Linked DNA regions of Homo sapiens. The protein of the gene in region 2 purifies or fractionates together with the protein of the main gene of each other region. This does not show direct contact. Each region holds a gene or a part of one and is shown on either strand. Other genes may lie near its edges.

Region 1 (3,656 bases), about 180 Mb from region 2:
TATTTAGGTTTTTTTTTTTTAGTTTTTTGCTCTTGTTGCCCAGGTCAGAGTGCAATGATGCAATCTTGGCTCACTGCAACCTCTGTCTCCAGGGTTAATGTGATTCTCCTGCCTCAGCCTCCCAAGTAGCTGGGATTACAGTACCCGCCACTATGCCCAGTTAATTTTTATATTTTTAGTAGAGATGGGGTTTCGCCATGTTGGCCAGGCTGGTCTTGAACTCCAGACCTCAGGTGAACCACCCACCTTGGCCTCCCAAAGTGTTGAGATTACAGGCGTGAGCCACCACGCCCGGCCTTTATTTTAATTAATTTAAATTTAAGTAGCTACATGTGGTTAGTGCAGTCTTAGCCTAGAGAAGAGTTAACAGGTACACAGAGGTCACAGATAAGCAACTCCTTTCTAAAGTTTGGCCTAGACTCCAAGGGATAAAGTCCAAAATGGGGTAGATGGAGAACAACTTTTAGTTCCCTGATAATACTTATGGTTATTACTCTTTGTCATATTTCTCTTTCATATTTGTGATTCCTATACTGCAGTGGTTCTTAGCCAGAGGGCAATCTGTCCCCCAGGGGACATTTGGCAATGTCTGGAGACAAACTGATAGGCATGACTAGAGATGCTACTGCTTTCTATTGAGTAGAGGCCAGGGATAGTATGAAATATCCTGTAATGCAGAGAACAGCCCTACCCCTATCCCAACAAAGAATTATCCAGCCCAAAATGTCAATGCTGCTAAGGTTGAGAATGCCTGCTATGGTAAAATTTATTTTCTTACCTAACTGCTACCTGCAATTAGGTAAGAAAATTAGTACCAAACACAAAGCTCAATCATATAAATGATATTTTCTTCTGATAGATCAGAACAAATTAAGATGTTAAATGGACACGGTATCCATCCCTGTACCAGATTGGTATGGGTTTGTTTTTCTTTGGAAGTGCTCCTCCTTGAATCAGTGAGTAGTAATTTTTCATTACAACTACCTTTATAAGACAAAAATGTCAGATCAACTAGAGAATTACTATGTCTTTATATTATAAAGGAGACTAGAAAATAAAATACTATCGAAGGAGGATCTTAAAAGAAGGAAATACTAATAATATGAAGAAACAAGACGTAAAAATATTATGTTCAGGGGAGAACACAATAGAAAAGTCTAAAACAAATTTCTGTTATTTGCACCACTTAGCAATTTATTTTCAACTCTTCCCCTTGAATTAAAAAAATATTAATAAGGTTCTCCAAGCCTATAAAGCTTTTACTAAAAATAAGTTGGCACATATATAGATATATATATATGGTACTTATACATTTTCCCAGTATTTCTGCTGTTTAACTATCACGAGTTACTGGATAAAGAAACCACTCCAAAGTTATTATTAAATATTTAGGTACAAGTTCAACTGGAAAAAGATGAATATACTAAGAAAATCTATTCTTTATTGCACACTTTGTGTCATTATTTAACAGCTAGCATCAAATTCTTCATACCAGCTAAAAAACCCATAGATACAGGAGAGAACACAAAACTCTTATTCTCTTGGGTTACTGTAGTAGGAATACATGATGTACTTTAAAGAGCCTTCTTTAAAAAAAAAAAAAGCCCTATTTTACTTGGAATGAAGAAAAAAATAATCAGTTTGTCAATTGGATCCCACCCAGATTTTTCCACCCCCAAACTAGGATCATAAATACCTAAGAATTAGACCAAAATCTAGGTGCTAGCAAAAAGTTGAAATTTTTAAAAAGTGGACTAGATAATTCTCTGCCCAGGTCCCTCCCCAAACCCTCCATCCAACCAAAAAAACACTTTTGGCTTTAATAAATATTTAACCTATAAACTTGGCTTTACCTTCACTATAACATCAACTTTATTATGCTTTCTAGTCATTTTTTCAGTCATTTCTTTGGGCCCCTGAGCAGTTGAAGTTAAGATCGAGTCCATGCTCTTCGGGCAGCAGTTGAATCCTTGTTCTGTACATCTTGTATTTTCTGTGATAGAGTGGTGATATGAGTTGATTGCATAGTTACCGCAAAATAATGTAAGTGACTTCATGATATCAGAGGTGGTAACTAAGCAGCAACTCCACTGGAAACCATGGCATTTAGATGATCACATATTAATGGTAGGTAATGCACTAACCTCCTGACAATGCTAGCTGTGCAGTTAATACAGATCATGAAAGGACAATGGTATGGTTGCAAAACAGTTACATAAACAGTTTCTTACTTTGGCATTTAAATAACTTGAGATAAATGGATGCTTATTTTCAAAGCAGGGTGGATCTTCCTTTTAATATTTTATTACAATGACTATCTCTCTCTTGGTTACTGAATGGCGAAGAATGAATTATTACTGGAGCAAGCAGAATGTATTAAACTACTCTAATTGATTTGGGGGAACTGAAAGATGTTCAGTGAACAAACTTAAATGCTTCATTCAAACCACAAGCTGAAAATTATCTGCAATAAATAGGTAAAATCTTAAAAACAACATAATTATTTCTGGCTATTTAAGATCTAACAATATAAATAGAACTTATCCTATTCATTCTGATTAGGGAGTATCAGACTAAATACATATAAAATACAGATTTCAGAACACTATTAAAATTATTTTTATTTTTATTTTTGGGCAGCCACATAGAGATGAATTTATCTGAGTTAAATGTACATATGATGCAACAGCACTGTACAAATTTTAGTTACTAAGTATAATAGATAAGATCAACAGTCAACTCTATAACTTATATTAAATAACTATAATTCTAGAACAACACATGAAACAGGCTAGCCCCACATTTATACGTTTTTAAAGGACTAAAATAAATAACTATCATTTCAGAAAAATAAGGAAGTCATTATATTAGAATATGTTCTAGTTCTATAATTCTAGTTATAAAATATAACAAATATTTTTGGAGTGAGCTTCCTACTTTTAACAGTATTACTAAAGCATTTTCCCATGAGACATTCTTATCCCTTCAGCTAGTAAGGGAAAGTATTAACAAAAAATTAGCTGGTAGTGATACTAACTCCATTACTTGGCATTTCTTTCAAATACCACCTAAGATGTTATAGTAATGAATTTAATGTAATATTTTATTTTATAATTGATGTATAGTTTTACTGGTTATGTTACATAGATTTTAATTATATAAGAAAACATTTTAATAAAAGGTTGTTATATCCATGCATTTTATAGTTAAGTTGTGCTAAATGCTAATTAATTCACCTTTTATCTCTTTGGTGAATTTTACCCGATGAGAATCAGTCAGAGGTCTTGGTTGCTCATCAATATTATGAATATCAAGAACTTCACACATGAACTGAATTACAGGTTGTGCTTTGTAGAAGGCAGTGGCAGAAACTAAGAAGAAAAACACAAACAATACAAATTAATGTTTCCCTAAAAAATTCAGAAACTTCATCTTAGGCTCCAGGATAACTATCTATAGGGTTAAAATGATCCTTTATGCACATTTATGTACATACAAATTTCCAAAATTAAGCAGTTTTAATTTGACCTCTGAGGCACAAATACAAAATGGCCAAATACTACAGTTTTTATAATCTATCTCTTTCATCGTAAGTAACTGATTCATTCCATTCTCTATAGAGAAGTGTTCTGGGTGAGACAAGGCTTGAAAGAGAC
Region 2 (3,656 bases):
TCAGTCACACAAGATGAAAAATTTCTAGAGATGTGCTGTACAATATTGTGCCTATGGATGAAATTGGAGGTCATTATGTTAAGTGAAATAAGCCAAGTACAGAGAGACAAATATGTTCTCACTCATATGTGGGAGTTAAAAAAGCGATCTCATGAAGATAGAGAGTAGATTGGTGGTTAACAAAGGCTAGAAAGGGTTAGTAGGAAGGGGAGGATGAAGAGAGATTGATTAATGAGTATAAACATACACTTAGAAGGAAAAAGACCTCGTGTTCAATAGATCACTGAGGTGACTATAGTTAACTAATCAATTGTACATTTCAAAATAGCTAGAATAATTTTAATGTTGCTAGTATAATGAAAAGATCAATATGTAAAGTGATAGATATCCCAATTGCCTTAATTTGATTATATGAATGTATCAAATTAACACATATACCCCCAAAATATGCACTAATAGATCTAATACATATCATAAAATTAAATAAAAAATAAGACGTGAAAAAATAAAAAAATAAAATTGCCACCTTACCACCACTAAAATCTACTCCCTCCCCACCAAAAATACTGTACTGCACACTTAAAAATTTGTTAAAAGGGTGTATCTGATGTGTGCTTTTTACCACAATGAAAAAAAATTCAACAGATAGGTTAACAGGGTTATATACAGCTGAAGAAAGATCTAAACATATATGGTAACTATAGTATAGGTTATACTACAGATTGGAGTACAGATAAACAGTGAAATAGGAGGAAAAAAATAAATGACAGGTTAAACATGAAGGATAGAATGATAAATTTTCGCACATCTAACCAGAGTGCCAGAAATACTATGCAGAACAGAGGTAAGGTAACATTCAAAGACATAATGGTTGGTACATTCCCATAACTGATGAGACATATGAATCCACACAAGATAGAGACAGACAGAAAGGATCACACACCAAATAGCAGATGACTCCTGAACAGAAACAATGTATATCAATAGACAATGGAATACTACCTTCTGAGTGGTGAAAGAAATCAAACTATCAACCTAGAGTTACAGACTAAGCAAAGCTATCGTTTAAGAATTAGGGCAAAATATGTCTTCAGATCTAAAAAAGTTCATCACTAACAATCCTGCACCAAAAGAACTTCCACAGATATTCATCAGGAAAAGAGAAAATGACACCCAAAGGAAACAATGAGATGGAAGAGGAAAAATAATAACAATAATAATAACTTTAAAATCATGTGTCTAATTCTATATGAACTGGATTTTTATAAAAAAAAAAGACGTAATAATAGCATGTAGGTCAGAAGTGAAGTGACAAACATTAAATACATTTCTTCTTCCAATGTATTGCCCTGCACACCCACTTTAGAGACCACTGATGTGTACTATATACATCCACCACTGTTCAGCTACAACAAACAACAATATTAGCTGCAATCATTTCAGAAGTCTTGTTAAAACAATGAGACAAGCCATAAAGGATTTGTAAATTTGATATGAAGGGACAAGTGCAAGGCACTCCACACAGAAAACAGTAAAGGTTCAGAAGTAGGGATAGGGACGGCATACCCTGTTCTTCCTCTAATAAAGTATCTTATACCATTTCATATGCTCTTCTAAAATCTATTTTTTTTTTTAAAAAAAAGGGTTCACACTCTGTCACCCGGGCTGGAGTGCAGCGGTGTGATCTTGGCTCACTGTAGCCTTTATCTCCTCGGCTCAAGCAACCCTCCCACCTCAGCCTCTCTAGTAGCTGTGAATGACTACAGGCACACACCACCATGCCCAGCTTATTTTTGTATTTTTAGTGGAGACAGGGTTTCTCCATGTTGCCCATGCTGGTCTCGAATTCCTGGATTCAAGCAATCCTCCCACCCCGGCCCCACAAAGTGCTGGGATTAGAGGCATGAGCCACTCTTCTAAACTCTTTAAGACACAAACAAAACAAAAGAAAACAAAAAAACACTTTCTCGAAGTAACAGCATGAGTACAGTAATAGTGGAAGGTGTCAGATTTTCATTATTCACCTTGAAGGATAGAATTATTAACCTTGGGTAGGTCACTAAATTTTCTCTCTGAAGGCTTCATTCAGCCTCTCAGGTTGTAATACGTAATGTCTACCCTCACCAATGTCACCAATATATTTTGATGATAAATGAAAAAATTCAAAGGGGGTGTTACAGCACTGATTTCTTATATACTGTACTAGTCACTGTGCTGGGCACTGGCAACACAGACTAAGGGAGACAAAGTCAGGCAATTAGATGCTATGTGATAGGTACTGTGACATGTGAAGGATGCACAGAAAATCCAAGGATAGTGACAAAGGTATGCTTTCCTCTCGCTTCTTCATGCCATTAACAATGATTCTCAAAAGACAAACTACTGATGGCAACCTTAGTTACAATAGGTAATCATTATAATCACCGCCATGAATTTCAGTATGTCACAAGACTCAACATCGAGTCTTTTTTTATTAAAGGCTTTTTAGTCTAACTGAATTCAATTTTAAAACATTCCAAGAAGTAGTCAAAAGAGTTTTCTTCATACTGATCAAAATTTCATCACAGAAAGCTAGGCTGAGCATTTTTGACCCATTAATAATTAGCATAATCGGAGTTTTTCCCAAATACTAAATTTTTTTTCTTGTTTCATTAAAAAACATGTAAGAGTAATGATAATATATTATCTATATCCATGGTGGAATTATCCAAATAAAATCTAACAAAAGAAAAAAAGAGAAATCTTTTTTACTCTTTTTCTGGACTTACTGTTTATAATCTAAAATCAAACACATTTTGCATAGATTCTATTATCTGCAACACATTTTTTTTACTTTACTACAAAGTGTTTATTGCCTTAAAAGTTAATCATTGGTTGTCCTGTTGTATTTAGCCCGTTGAGGCCTATTAACAAGGCACACACAAATCTTTCATCAAAGAAAATACTCCTGAAAAAGTACACATAGACTGTTCTTAGAGAAAAGCAATTCTTTCTCATTCTACTATATATAGCAGTAGTATATAAGAGATCAGTGCTATAATATTCCTCTTTTGGGATTTTTATTTATCCTGAATATATATTAGTGACACTGAGAAGGGTAGATATTATATATTCCCAAGGACACAAAATCCAAATACGTTATATGGATGACCAAAGAAATGTTTATATTAACTGCAAACGACAACGAAATATCAAGATGGTGTTTTAAATTACTGTATTTGTTGATTTTAATTTCTAAGGAAAATAAAATGTTTTTAGTTAGTGTCCTTGATATACCAAAGGACTTAGAACCCTTTAATAGTCATATGAATATAAAAGTTTTGTAACTATTTTTAAAAATATGTCATGTAATTGAAAATGACTATAAACAAAAATACATTTTGGCTGCCATACTGGCATTAATATATTAGCTAACAAGCAGGCTTGTTACTTTATTTCATCGATGAGAAGTAAAAATGGATGATGCCATTTACTACCAACTAGAGAATAAAGAGAGTCACCAATGGTGATTTCGTAGCCATCAGTGGTGGCCTCTTTGATAAACACCTATAACACCTATAAACCAATTTAGCCCTATTTACACAATGTCTTCTACCATACATTACTTGTTTGGGATTATTATCTCTTCTGTAAGCTCCTTGCAGGGAGAGACTTTA

The links. The genes of interacting proteins can lie anywhere in the genome.
Region 1: the proteins of MARK1 (region 2) and AGO3 purify together in Homo sapiens (affinity purification with mass spectrometry, with the first as the bait; one large-scale study listed by BioGRID). This does not show direct contact.

What each region holds. Positions count from the first base shown.
Region 1 is NC_000001.11:36,004,056-36,007,711, reverse strand, and holds part of AGO3 (protein argonaute-3), read right to left. Parts: intron 3,372-3,656; coding exon 3,237-3,371; intron 3,231-3,236; exon of another isoform or gene 1,854-3,230; intron 1-1,853.
Region 2 is NC_000001.11:220,530,991-220,534,646, reverse strand, and holds part of MARK1 (serine/threonine-protein kinase MARK1), read right to left. Parts: intron 1-3,656. UniProt on the Homo sapiens protein: Serine/threonine-protein kinase. Involved in cell polarity and microtubule dynamics regulation. Phosphorylates DCX, MAP2 and MAP4. Phosphorylates the microtubule-associated protein MAPT/TAU.